2 separate regions of the Homo sapiens genome follow, and region 2 is linked to region 1. The links come from fine-mapping of genetic effects on plasma protein levels. A gene starts in region 1. The other region holds a variant in brackets. All regions are shown on one strand. Distances are from middle to middle.

Region 1 (6,829 bases):
CCTGTCTCTACTAAAAATACAAAAAATTAGTCGGGCGTTGTAGCGGGCACCTATAATCCCAGCTACTTACTTGGGATGCTGAGGCAGGAGAATTGCTTGAACCCGGGAGGCACAGGTTGCAGTGAGCCGAAATTGCACTGTTGCACTCTAGCCTGGACAACATGTGTGAAACTCCATCTCAACTAAAGAAAAAAAAGGAAAACTAGGCCGGGTGCAGTGGCTTAATGCCTGTAATCCCAGCACTTTGGGAGGCCAAGGTAGGTGGCTCACTTGAGGCCAGGAGTTTGAGACCAGCCTGGCCAACATGGCGAAACCCCGTCTCTACTAAAAATACAAAAATTAATCAGGCATGGTGGTGCATGCCTGTAATTCCAGCTACTCGGGAGGCTGAGGCAGGAGAATTGCTTGAACCCAGGAGGCAGAGGTTAAAGACCCTGTCTCAAAAAAAAAAAAAAAAAAAAAAAAAAAGGAAAACTAGGCTGTGTGAAGGGTGAAGGTGGCTCATGCCTGTGATCCCAGCACTTAGGGAGGGTGAGATGGGAGGATCACTTGAGTCCAGGAATTTGAGACCAGCCTGGGTAACATAAGGAGACCCCATCTTTTAAAAATAAAAAAAAAAAAAAAACAAAAATAGCCAGTTGTGGTGGTGCGCGCCTGTAGTCCCAGCTATTTGGGAGACTGATATAGGAGGATTGCTTGAGCCCAGGAGTTTGAGGCTACAGTGGGCTGTGATTGAGGTACTGCACTCCAGCCTGGGCCACAGAGTGAGACCCTGTCTCAATATCCTCCACCTGCCACCCCACCCCTCCACAAAAAACAAACAAACAAAAAAACTAAAAATATGTATACTATTAAGCTCTTAGTAAAAGTTTCCTTTCATAGAAAATATAGAATTTTTGCATTCACTTTGCACTTTGAATCAGTTTTTTCCCGGTTTAGAAACAACCCTAATGAGAGACAATTCATTTGGAAAATTGGATGGGTTCCAGTTTTTTTGCTGTCAGAGAATTGGATAAATAGCCTATATCATGTGATAATTACTATAAAGCAATGAAGCTTGACAGTGAGGTGAGGGATTTGAAAACATACAGTTAATAAGCAAGGCGAATTACTACCCTGTTTGTAAATATGGATACATTTCCAAGAGTGAAAAAAAGAAGTTGATACCATTTATGTTAAATATAACCAAAACATGTTACATGTTATCTGGCTACATGTAAATATACATAAAACAAGTGGACTAGAAGGCTGCACAGGACTTGCAGTGGGACCTCTGGGAATAGGGGGAGCAGGATCCACCCGGAGCTGGAAGGGGCCGTAGAGCTAGAGTTCCCTGTTCTTATTTAAAAATCTTCATGTCCTTGGGCCAGGCGCGGTGGCTCACGCCTGTAATCCCAGCACTTTGGGAGGCCGAGGCAGGTGGATCACAAGGTCATGAATTCAAGACCAGCTTGGCCAGGATGGTGAAACCCCATCTGTACTAAAAATACAAGAATTAGCCGGGCATGGCGGCAGGCGCCTGTAATCCCAGCTACTAGAGAGGCTGAGGCAGGAGAATTGCTTGAACCTGGGAAGTGGAGGTTGCAGTGAGCCAAGACTGCACCATTGCACTCCAGCCTGGGCAACAGCGAGACTCCGTCAAAAAACAAAACAAAACAAAAAAAAACTTCATGTCCTTATATATTTGTGTAATTTAGAAAAGAACATAAACAACAAATATGGGAAAAGATGAACAATGGTTAATTCTGTGGAGTGGGAGCATGGTGGGTGATTATTTTGTTTATGCTTTTAGGTATGTTTCCAACCATCAAACCAAAAAAAAAAGAAAAAGAGAAACAGATCCTTGATCTTAACAGGAAATGGCTGTCATTATGAGTATTATTTCTATTCCCTGTTTTCATAGAAAATGTGGACACAGACTTGCCAGGCAGCCTGGGGCAGAGTGAAGAGAAGCCCGTGCCTGCTGCGCCTGTGCCCAGCCCGGTGGCCCCGGCCCCAGTGCCATCCAGAAGAAATCCCCCTGGCGGCAAGTCCAGCCTCGTCTTGGGTTAGCTCTGACTGTCCTGAACGCTGTCGTTCTGTCTGTTTCCTCCATGCTTGTGAACTGCACAACTTGAGCCTGACTGTACATCTCTTGGATTTGTTTCATTAAAAAGAAGCACTTTATGTACTGCTGTCTTTTTTTTTTTTCTTTTGAAGAACAGGTTTCTCTCTGTCCTTGACTCTTGGGTCTGTGGGCCATGGCATGAGTGTTTTCTAGTAGTAGATTGGAGGGAAAGCTTTGTGACACTTAGTACTGTGTTTTTAAGAAGAAATAATTTGGTTCCAGATGTGTTAGAGGATCTTTTGTACTGAGGTTTTTAACACTTTACTTGGGTTTACCAAGCCTCAACTGGACAGACCATAAACAGTCCACAGGCACCGTTCCTGCCAGGCCCCAACCCACAGGGAGTCTCTCCGCAGAGCCTTCTTGGTGTTGCCCTAACTTGCCAGTGGCCTTTGCTCAGAGCCTCCTCCTGTGACATGTGAACAATGAAGAGGCCTGCGCCTCCTGCCTTGCCGCCTGCAAAGCAAAGAAACTGCCTTTTATTTTTTAACCTTAAAAAGTAGCCAGATAGTAACAAGACTGGCTGGCTGATGAGCAAAGCCTTTGCTCTCACGCAGAGGAAGGCTTGGATGTACAATGAAACTGCCTGGAACTAAAAGCAGTGAAGCAAGGGAGGCAATCACACTGAAGCGGGTCTTCCTCCAGGAACGGGGTCCCACAGGCGTGTTGTTTTAAATAACCTGATGCTGTGTGCATGATGCTGGTGCTTGACCATGAAAGGAAAGTCTCATCCTTAAAATGTGTTGTACTTCACAATCCTGGACTGTTGCTTCAAGTAAACAATATCCACATTTTGAAACACTGTGTACTGTGTCTTCTTTTTGAGATGGTTTCAGTGTTCTCCCTGGTTAGATGCTTTTCTCTTTGTCACTATAAATCCTGCCTACTGATTGGAGGAGTCATTTGAAGTTAAATAGCCAGATGTGCCTGTAATTAGCTACTTGGGAAGCCAAGGCAAGAGGATGCTTGAGCCCAGGAGTTTGAGACTATCCTGGGCAACATAGCGAGACCTCCTTAAAAAACAAAATCTTAAAACAGATGAAGACCCAGAGAGGAGTGGGTTTCTTTCTGAAGAAGGCTCTAAAGATGAGCAGGTTAGACTCTTCTACCTCCCCTTTGTTCTGGGCAGTAACATTTTAAAGTGTTCTCCAAGACTGGGCAACATGGTGAAACCTCGTCTCTACCAAAAATAGCCAGGTGTGATGGCACACGCCTGTAGTCGGGAGGCTGAGGCAGGAGGATTGCTTCACCCTGTGAGATCAAGGCTGCAGTGAGCCATGATCGCACCACTGTACTCCAGCCTGGGTGACAGCAAGACCCTGTCTCAAAAAAAGTTCTCCAACTTTAAATATGCGGGGATTTCTCCCCACCAGCAAGCAAGCAAGCAAGCAATTCTGCAGTGGATACCAGCTAGGTGTCCTCCAATTTTTTTTTTTTTTTAAGACAGTGTCTCAGTCTGTCGCCCAGGCTGAAGTGCAGTGGCACAATCTGCTCACTGCAACCTCTGCCTTCTGGGTTCCAGCGATTCTCCTGCCTCACCCTCCCGAGTAGCTGGGACTACAGGCATGTGCCACCACACCCAGCTAATTTTTGTATTTTTAGTAGAGACAGGGTTTATGCCATGTTGCCCAGGCTGGTGTCGAACTCCTGACCTCAAGTAATCTGCCCACCTCGACTTCCCAAAGTGCTGGGATTATAGGCATGAGCCACCTCACCTGGCCCTCCAATTCAATTCTGACAATCAGTTACCTGGAGATAGCTTTGATTCCACAAGTTGAGGGCTCAGCCCCCAAGACTGCTTCCCCTTGAGATAACTCGCAAGTCTGGGCCTCCAAAATGTCTGCGTATCTATGAGTCATATGCATGTTGACTTGAGCCCCTCTTAGACTGGTTTGTCAGGCTTTTTTTTTTTCTGAGATGGAGTCTGGCTCTGTCACCCAGGCTGGACTGCAGTGGCATGATCTTGGCTCACTGCAACGTCTGTCTCCCGGGTTCAAGCAATTCTCCTGCCTTGGCCTCCTGAGTAGCTGGGATTTGTAGGCATGTCCCACCATGCCCGGCTAGTTTTTGTATTTTTAGTAGAGATGGGGTTTCACCATGTTGGTCAGGCTGGTCTCGAACTCCTGACTTTGTGATCCACCTGCCTCGGCCTCCCAAAATGCTGGGATTACAGGCGTGAGCCACTGCACCCGGCCCTGTCAGGTTTTTTTGTGTGTGTGATGCTTCTATTACATGTTTTGTTTGTTTGTTTGTTTGAGACGGAGTCTCGCTGTGGCCCAGGCTGGAGTGCAGTGGCGTGGTCTTGGCTCACTGTAATCTCTGCCTCCCGGGTTCATGCCATTCTCCTACCTCAGCCTCCTGAGTAGCTGGGACTACAGTCACCCGCCACCATGCCCAGCTAATTTTTTTTTTTTTTTTGTATTTTTAGTAGAGACAGGGTTTCACCGTGTTAGCCAGGATGGTCCTGATCTCCTGACCTCATGATCCGCCCGCCTCAGCCTCCCAAAGTGCTGGGATTACAGGCGTGAGCTACCGTGCCCAGCCTCTGTTACATATATTTGGAAGCAGTGGGTTCATCAGATGGGGAACAATGGCGAGATGGGCCACTTAAATCTGTGTTTATAATTTTGGCTCTCCCCTCCCCCAACAGGGACTCCCTCTGTCACCCAGGCTGGAGTGCAGTGGCAGGATGAAGGCTGTGTAGCCTCAATTTCCTGGGCTCAAGGGTTCCTCCCACCTAAGGCTCATGAGTAGCTAGGACCACAGGCATGCGCCACCATACCCAGCTTATTGATTTGTTTATTGTAGAGACAGGGTCTCCCTGTGTTGCTCAGGCTGGTCTTGAACTCCTGGGCTCAAGCTGTCTCCCACCTGGGCCTCCCAAAGTGCTGGGATTACCAGCCTGAGCCACGGCGCCTGGCTTTATAGTTTGTAGGCAAATAGATTTGAGTGGAGTCAGGAAGTTTCATGACATCCACAAAAAGAAGAGTCAACAAAATGTATCACAGTTCAGCATGTTCTTTTTTTTTTTTTTTTTTTTTGAGAAGGAGTTTTGTTCTTGCTGCCCAGGCTGGAGGGCAATGGCATGATCTCGGCTCACCGCAACCTCTGCCTCCTGGATTCAAGAGATTCTCCTGCCTCAGCCTCCCGGGTAGCTGGGATTACAAGCATGTGCCACCACGCTAATTTTGTATTTTTAGTAGCGACAGGATTTCTCCATGTTGGTCAGGCTGGTCTTGAACTCCCGACCTCAGATGATCCGCCCGCCACGGCCTCCCAAAGTGCTGGGATTATAGGCGTGAGCCACCGCACCTGGCCCTGTTCAGCATTTTCTAGACGGGAGTAGGTAAGCGATGTCAGTTCCACATAAAGTCCTGAGGACAGTCCTGATTACCTGTGCTTGATCAAAATCATCTTTCCGGGGGAAACCACACTTGAAGCTCCCATGTTTCAAGCCAACTCTAGTGTGAATTAGTCTCTTAACGAGCTAGACTTACACAAACCAGTTAACAGATTCATTTCACTTTGTAGTCCTCGAGGGATTGTTCCTGCTCCACTGCACAGACGAAAGCAATCCACTGAGACCACGGTACTGCGGTAATAAGACTTTGGCCAGGTGCGGTGGCTCAAGCCTATAATCCCAACACTTTGGGAGGCCAAGGCAGGCAGATCACTTGAGGTCAGGAGTTTGAAACCAGCCTGACCAACATGGCGAAACCCCGTCTCTACTAAAACTACAAAAATTAGCCAGGCGTGGTGGCGGGTGCCTGTAATCCCAGCTACTCGGGAGGCTGAAGCAAGAGAATCGGTTGAACCCGGGAAGCGGAGGCTGCAGTGAGCCGAGATCGCGCCGCCACTGCGCCGCAGCCTGGGCGACAGAGCCAGACTCCGTCTCAAAATAAAAAAAAAAAAAAAGAAAAAAAGAAAAAAAATGTGGAGCTAGCCCCACGGGTTTAGGACCCTTGACTCCTCGTTAGATGCTTCCCAGTATTTCAGAGCATCCCTTTGTTGGGCCCCCGGAAGGTCGGTCCCCTACTAGTAACGTGGGGTGAACGGGGGTACGTCTGCCGTAAAGTGGGAGGCGGCTGATGGGGACAAAGGCTGGGTCCCGAAGAAGCGCAGGGTCAGAAAAGTGCCCCCCAAAGCCGTCCCTGCACCCGAACCCTAGGATGGCCTCGCGCAACCGCAGGGCCGTCGGCACTGGTTTACGACCTGGGCGGGGCGGCCCGGACACTCTATGCAAATCAGCCCGGCGGACTCCGGAAGCAGCGCTCCCTCCGCTTCCGGCCGAGCCCGCGCCCCCCAGACCCCGAGAGCTCGCAGCTCCGGCCCGGCGGCGATGGCGCGGAGCGTGCGCGTGCTGGTGGACATGGACGGCGTCCTGGCCGACTTCGAGGCCGGCCTCCTGCGGGGCTTCCGCCGCCGCTTCCCTGAGGAGCCGCACGTGCCGCTGGAGCAACGCCGCGGCTTCCTGGCCCGCGAGCAGTACCGCGCCCTGCGGCCCGACCTGGCGGTAGGGGGCGCAGGGTCCCCACCCGGGCAGGGCCCGCTCGCTCCGTTCCGGGGGTCTCCCCCTTCTCTGTGAAGGGCGCAGAGCTCTCACCCTGGAACCCGCGGGCAGCGCACCCTGGGGAGGAGCCTTTGGGCGCGTGCCCCTGACCGACGCCCCCTCCGCCCCTCTGAGCTCGGGCCCGGAGCCCCCAGGAGCCTCCCTGCGGGTCC
Region 2 (7,036 bases), 7.2 kb before region 1:
AATCATTGACTTAATTATCTTAAATCTTGGAGGTATTTATTGGCATTTCTGTAACAAGTGCTAAAGACTTGCCGATGAGTGCAAGGTTTGTAAGTGTCAGGCAGTAGCAGTCAGTGAAGTGCAGCAGTCACAAGGCCCTCTGGTCTAGACAGAAGCAGCAGCTTCCTCTTAAGGCCTTTTCCTACCCTTATGTTTTGTGGTGTGCTTACAAGGACACACGGAAAGGTTGAAGAAGCAGATTCCTCTCCTGCCTTCTCACACAGTGTTCTGTTTTTTTGGTTGTGTTTTTTTTTTTTTTTTTTTTTTGAGATGGAGTCTGGCTCTGTCATCCAGGCTGGAGTGCAGTGGCAGGATCTCAGCTCACTTCAACCTCTGCCTCCCGGGTTCAAGCACTTCTCCTGGCTCAGCCTCCTGAATAGCTGGGATTACAGGCACGCGGCACCATGCCCGGCATGAGCCACTGCGCCCGGCCTCACAGTGTTTCTTGGTGGGCTTAGAGGAGAAGCTCCTGAGCCTTTGGGAGCATTGCCTGGGTTCTTCCTTATAGGACCTGTTTAGGGGGAAAACACTCAAACGTGTTTTTCCTCTTTTTTTCACACCACAACAATCATCAACACAGAAGA[C/T]GACACCTGTGACCAAATATGGGGGGTTTCTCCCCACACGCCAATCAGTGGACACCAGTTGGGAGTCCTCCAATCCAGTTTCCACACCCTCTGCCTGAAGATAACCTCAGATTCAGCAGGTTGAGGGTCAGTCCCACAAGACTGCCCCTTCCTTCCCACCAGTTGTAAGTCTGGGCCTCTGGAACTTCTGACCGACTGGCTTCAAATTGGGGTTCCTGTGACCCCTTCTATGGTTTTGATTAATTTGCTAGAGAGGTTCACAGAAAGAACTCAGGGAAACACTTATGTTTACAGGTTCATTATGAATATATGATACATTTTTTTTTATTTTTTTCTAAACTGAATCTTGCTCTGTTGTCCAGACTGGAGTGCAGTGTCACCCTCACAGCTCACTGCAACTTCAAACTCCTGAGCTGAAGCAATCCTCCTGCCTCAGCCTCCTGAGTAGCTGGGATACAGGTGTATGCCACCATGCCTGGCTAATTTTTTTTCTTTTTTTGTAGAGATGTGGTCTCACTATGTTATGTTACACAGGCCAGTCATGTGATCCTCCCACCTCAGCCTCCAAAAGTATTGAGATTACAGGCATGAGCCACTGTACCTGGGTTGTTACGAAGGATATTTGAAAGGATACAAATAAACAGCCCAGTGAGGAGATACTTGGGGCCTGGTATGGAAAGGTCCCAAGTACAGGAGCTCCTGTACCTTGGAGTTGGGGTGTGCCACCCTCCTGGCACATGGATGAGTTGTTGCACCTTCCTGTCAGCTTCCACATGTTCAGTTATCCAGAAGTCCTCAGAATCCATCCTTCTGGGTGTTTTTTTAAGACTGGGTTTTGGTCTTAACCAGGCTAGAGTGCAGTGGCACAATCTCATTGCTCACTATAGCCTCAACCTCCTGGACTCAAGCAGTCTTCCTACCTTTGCCTCCCAAAGTGAGCCACTGTGCCCAGCCCCTTTTGGGTTTTTCTTTTTTTTCTCGAGATGGAGATTCGCTCTTTTTTTTTTCTGAGATGGAGTCTCACTCTCTGTCACCCAGGCTGGAGTGCAGTGGTGCCATCTCAGCTCACTGCATCCTCTGCCTCCCAGGTTCAAGCGATTCTCCTTCCTCAGCCTCCTGAGTAGCTGAGATTACAGGCATGCACCACCATGCCCAGGTAATTTTTTAATTTTTAGTGGAGACAGGGTTTCGCCATGTTGGCCAGGCTGGTCTTGATCTCCTGACCTCAGGTGATCCACCCTCCTCAGCCTCCCAAAGTGCTAAGATTATGGGTGTAAGCCACCATGCCTGGCCAAGTTTCACACTTTTTGCCCAGGCTGGAGTGCAATGGCATGATCTTGGCTCACTGCAACCTCTGCCTCCTGGGTTCAAGCAATTCTCCTGCCTCAGCCTCCTGAGTAGCTGAGATTACAGGTGCACGCTACTATACCTGGCTAATTTTGTATTTTTAGTAGAGACGAGGTTTCACCATGTTGGCCGGGCTGATACTGAACTCCTGACCTCCAGTAATCCACCTGCTTTGGCTTTCCAAAGTGCTGGGATTACAGGCATGAGCCGCTACACCTGGCCCCTTTTGGTTTTTTATGGAGGCTTCATTACATAAGCATGATTGACAACTGTACAGAAATACGATTAGACAAAAAAGGTTTGATTTCATACCAATGGACTGAACAAGGGAACTCAGAAGGCCCGTCTGTTAGATTCTTCTTGGCCTCTCCATGTAGCATTCCCTCCTCCAGGGTATGGAGCAGGACCCTCTGGATTAAGGGTCTTTTGACCTGCCATCAGATTACAGTCCTGCCCTGGGCAGGTAAAAGGAGGACAGGAGGTCACAAAGAGATTCTGTTTCCTGAGGGCTGCTCCTGAGGCTTAATGCACCCCATTCAAAAGACTTTTAAGGGCTATGGGAGTTACCAGCCAGTAGCTGTGGACAAAAACAGATTTTGTGTGTGTGTGTGTGTATTTTCATATACGTATGTATATCATAATATCACAGGACCAGTTACTTTTGCATTGGACCGAAGATGTATGTATTAATTACTGTTTGTGTTCTATTTGTACTGTTCTGGAAAGACTTCTGGAGGTAAAATCTAGGTTTTTTGATTCCACTTCTTGCTTCCTTCCTTCTTCCCTCCTCTCCCTTCCCCTCCCCTCCCTTCTCATCCCTTCCCGTTCCCTTCCTCCCCCTTCCCTCCATCCCCCCCTCCCCTCCCTCCCCTCCCTCCCCTCCTCTCTCCCCCTTCCCCTCCCTCCCTCCCTCTCCCTCCCTCTCCCCTCCCCTCCCCCCTTGACGGAGTTTAGCTCTTGTTGTCCAGGCTGGAGTGTAGTGGCACGATCACGGCTCACTGCAACTCCACCTACCGGTTTCAAGTGATTCTCCTGCCTCAGCCTCCCTGCGTAGCTGGGATTACAAGGGCTGCCACCACGCCCGGCTAATTTTTTTTTTATTAGTAGAGACAGAGTTTCAACATGTTGGCCAGACTGGTCTTGAACTCCTGACCTCAGGTGATCCACCTGCCTTGGCCTCCCAAAATGCTAGGATTACAGGCGTGAGCCACCAGGCCCGGCCGGTTCTACTGCTTTCTATATTCTGAATACTTTCACTGTCAGACCTTATTTAACAAGAATCAGCTAATCTTTATTCAATTATTTTGGTCAGTTAATACAACTAGAAGTTAGGGGAACTTGGAGAAGTATGTCAACAATGTGTCAATAGTCCTACCACATAATTAATAATTCTGTTCCCTTTTCAGTCCCCTTCACAGTTTTTGTTTTTTCGAGACAGAGCCTTGCTCTGTCACCCAGGCTGGAGTGCAGTGGTATGATCTCAGCTCAAGGCAACCTCCGCCTCCCAGGTTCAAGCGATTCTCCCGCCTTAGCCTCCTGAGTATCTGGGACTACAGGTGTGCGCCACTACAGCTGGCTATTTTTTTTACTTTTAGTAGAGACGGAGTTTCACCATATTCACCAGGCTGGTCTCGAACTCCTGACCTCAAGCGATCTACCCACCTTGGCCTCCCAAAGCGCTGGGAGGCATGAGCCACTGCGCCCAGCCTCGCTCAACTAATTTTTTTTATTTTTAGCAGACACGGAGTTTTCGCCATGTTGGCCAGGCTGGTCGCAAACTCCTAAGTCCTTTCTTTTTCCCCCCAGTGGTTATCTGGTTACCTGTTGTTGTTTTTTCCTTTTTGTTTTTTTTGAGAGTCTCACTCTGTCGCCAGGCTGGAGTGCAGTGGCATAATCTCGGCTCACTGCAACCTCCGCCTCCCGGGTTCAAGTGATTCTCCTGCCTCAGCCTCCCGAGTAGCTGGGACTACAGGCATGCACCACCATGCCTAGCTAATTTTTGTATTTTTAGTAGAGACAGTATTTCACCATGTTGGCCAGGCTGGTCTCAAACTCCTGACCTCAGGTGATCCCCCTGCCTTGGCCTCCCAAAGTGCTGGGATTACAGGTGTAAGCTATTGTGCCCGGCCTTTTTAAGTTTCTGATCTGATATATTCTGTGTGGCTGACTGCTGCAACTTTAGTTCATCTGTCTTAAAATGAAAAGGGGCACAATAATATTTTTTTCTTTACTGAGACAGGTTCTCACTGTTGCCTGAACCACGAGTGCAGTGGCACAATCACCACTCACTGCAGCCTTGACTTCCGGGTTCAAGCCATCCTCTCACCTCAGCTTCCTGAGTAGTTGGGACTACAGTTGCATGCCACCATGCCTGGCTAATTTTTGTGGTTTTGTTTTTGTTTTGTTTTTGAGATGGAGTCTTGCTCTGTTGCCCAGGCTAGAAATGCAGTGGCATGATCTTGGCTCACTGCAGCCTCCACCTCTTTGATTCAAGCAATTCTCCTGCCTCAGCCTCCCGAGTAGCTGGGATTACAGGTGCCCGCCACTGTGTCCAGCTAATTTTTGTGTTTTCAGTAGAGACAGGATTTCACCATCTTGCCCAGGCCGGTCTCGAACTCCTTACCTCGTGATCCACCTGCCTTGGCCTCCCAAAGTGTCGGGATTACAGGCGTGAGCCACCGTGCTTGGCCAATTTTTGTAGTTTCTGTAGAGACAGGGTTTTGCTATGTTTCCCCCGGCTGGTCCTGGGTTCATGTTGATCTTCCTGCCTTGGCCTCCCAAAATTCTGGGATTACAGGTGTGAGCCGCTGTGCCTGGCTGAGGTACAGTAATAAGATACATCTGGAGGATTAAAGGTCAACCCCAATTCAGTTTAAATAAGATAGATTCCCTTTGGATATACGGGAAATTTATTTTACCTCTTGGGCAATTAAACGCAGGAATGGCTACAGGAATGACTTTGGAGTTTCCATCTTGAGAAATCTAAGAGGGAGAAGGTCCAGGAAGTTCAGGCAGAGAAGTCTCCCTGACTGCGGGCAAGTTAGATGGTCGGCTACATTTCTTCCAGTTCTGATTCTTTGATGCTTACAATGAATCATTTTCTATTCAGATAGAGATGTCTTTGTTCAGTTATCTTATTGATGTGCCAAAGAAAAGAGACCAGGAGTGTCTAAAATGTATATTTTGGTAGAAATAATTTCATTTAAAGCCCTTTTTTTTTTTAAATTATCTTCAGCAGACAAAAGCTTTCTGTGTCAAATTGGCATAAAAGTTTCTAAACATTTGGCTGGGCGCGGTGGCTCATGCCTGTAATCCCAGCCCTTCGGGAGGCTGAGGTGTGCGGATCATGAGGTCAAGAGATCAAGACCATCCTGGCCAACATGGTGAAAGCCCGTCTCTACTAAAAATACAAAAATTAGCCAGGCGTGGTGGCACGCGCCTGTAATCCCAGCTACTTGGGAGGCTGAGGCAGGAGAATCGCTTGAACCTGGGAGGTGGAGATAGATTGCGCCACTGCACTCCAGCCTGGCAAGAGAGAGAGACTCCATCTGAAAAAATAAATCAAAGTTTCTGAACACTTACTCTCAATTCCTGTACTTATCTCATTATGGGCTGGAAACAAACAAACCTCCCTCCTCTGTGGGTGGAGTACTTCTGACTGGACAGACATTTATTTATTTTTGAGACGGAGTCTTACTCTGTCGCCCAGGCTGGAGTGCTGTGGCACGATCTTGGCTCACTTCAAACTCCGCCTCCCGGGTTCAAGTGATTCTCTTGCCTCAGCCTCCCGAGTATCTGTGAATACAGGCGCGCACACACGCCCAGCTAATTTTTGTACTTTTGTAGACACGGGGTTTCACCATGTTGGCCAAGCTGGTCTCAAACTCCTGACCTCAGGTTATTCAGCTGCCTTGGCCTCCCAAAGTGCTGGGATTACAGGTGTGAGCCACTGCACCTGGCCTGGACAGACATTTAAAGTAAGGCCTACTGCTGCTTGTTTAGTCTCCATAGGTGCTTTTTTATTTTTTTCTTCTTCTTTATTAGTATGTTATGTATTTGTGAAAAACAAAACAGTTCTAGTAATAATGTAAGACAAATATAAGATTAGTAGTATTGAGCTTGATTCATCTGAAGAGGATTTTATGAAAATAAACCACTATGGCAGGACTGCAAGATAATTTTTTGTTCTTCAGAATGTTCATTAACTGCTGGATTCAGAGAGAGAATGAAGACTTCAGTAGATCCTGTATGTATAGCAGGAGGCCATGTCCCACCAGCAGAAATGAAACTGCTTGAACTAACAAGTTGTCTCAGTCCGAATTCTCTTTATCTTGAATATTTTAAATGTGGAGTTTTGTTTTTCTTTTATATTTACAATTATATTTAGGTTATTTCAGGGACACTTATTGTAGGACTTGTGTGTCTGATCCAGTGCATTTGATCTTGCTTCTTTTACAATGGATGTAACCAAGGAAACTAATGGGTGACCCTCTCTGAGTTTTAGTTCATAATTGTGACAGTTGTCATTCTGAAAAGCTTCATACTCTATTTTTGCTTGTAGTTAAATAGTATAGAACATTTTATGTTACTCCCATAGAATGTTCCAGAAATTCATGAAATGTTAAAAGCAGCAGTAGTATGTTAACATTAACAAAGCATGAAAAATAAATAAATAAAATAAATGTCTGTCCAATGAGAAATACTGCAGCCACAGAAGAGGGAGGTTTGTTTGCTTCTAGCCTATCATGAGATAAGTACATGAATTGAGAGTAAGTGTTAAAGACCTCTTCTTGGCCGGGCATGGTGGCTCACGCCTGTAATCTGAGTACTTTGGGCAGCTGAGGTGGGTGGATCACTTGCGGTCAGGAGGTTGAGACAAGCCTGGCCAACATGGTGAAACCTGGTCTCTACAAAAATACAAAAAATTAGCTGGGCATGGTGGCGGGCGCCTATAACCCCAGCTATTGGGAGGCTGAGGCAGGAGAATCGCTTGAGCCTGGGAGGCGGAGGTTGTGGTGGGCCAGGATCACGCTACTTTACTCCAGTCTGGGCGATGGAATGAGACA

Alleles and levels. Positions count from the first base shown, and alleles are read on the strand shown. Strength reflects both the effect of a copy and how common the allele is.
In carriers of allele T in region 2, the plasma level of the protein whose gene starts at base 6,412 in region 1 tends to be lower than with C alone (strong association).

The links. PIP is the posterior inclusion probability: the model's chance that the variant is causal. The UK Biobank Pharma Proteomics Project read protein levels with antibody pairs (Olink). The fine-mapping took linkage between variants from a reference panel, not from the people measured, so its PIPs are less certain.
Region 2: its variant is fine-mapped to the plasma level of the NT5C protein (UK Biobank, PIP 0.98).

Annotation. Positions count from the first base shown.
Region 1 is chr17:75,131,325-75,138,153 of GRCh38, reverse strand. It overlaps NT5C (5', 3'-nucleotidase, cytosolic), which reads left to right and starts at 6,412. Exons shown (of 5, transcript NM_014595.3): 1 at 6,412-6,620. The coding sequence starts at 6,447. JPT1 (Jupiter microtubule associated homolog 1) reads left to right here. Exons shown (of 5, transcript NM_016185.4): 5 at 1,904-2,906. The coding sequence ends at 2,052. LOC107985034 (a long non-coding RNA gene) reads right to left here and starts at 1,904. Exons shown (of 2, transcript XR_007065907.1): 1 at 1-1,904. RefSeq lists a silencer at 6,250-6,819.
Region 2 is chr17:75,138,434-75,145,469 of GRCh38, reverse strand. The region is part of intron 4 of JPT1 (Jupiter microtubule associated homolog 1); the gene reads left to right. LOC107985034 (a long non-coding RNA gene) reads right to left here. Exons shown (of 2, transcript XR_007065907.1): 1 at 4,594-7,036. Among named protein-coding and RNA genes, the nearest start is that of NT5C, 10 kb to the right of the region's middle. The variant C/T (reference allele first, on the strand shown) is at 624.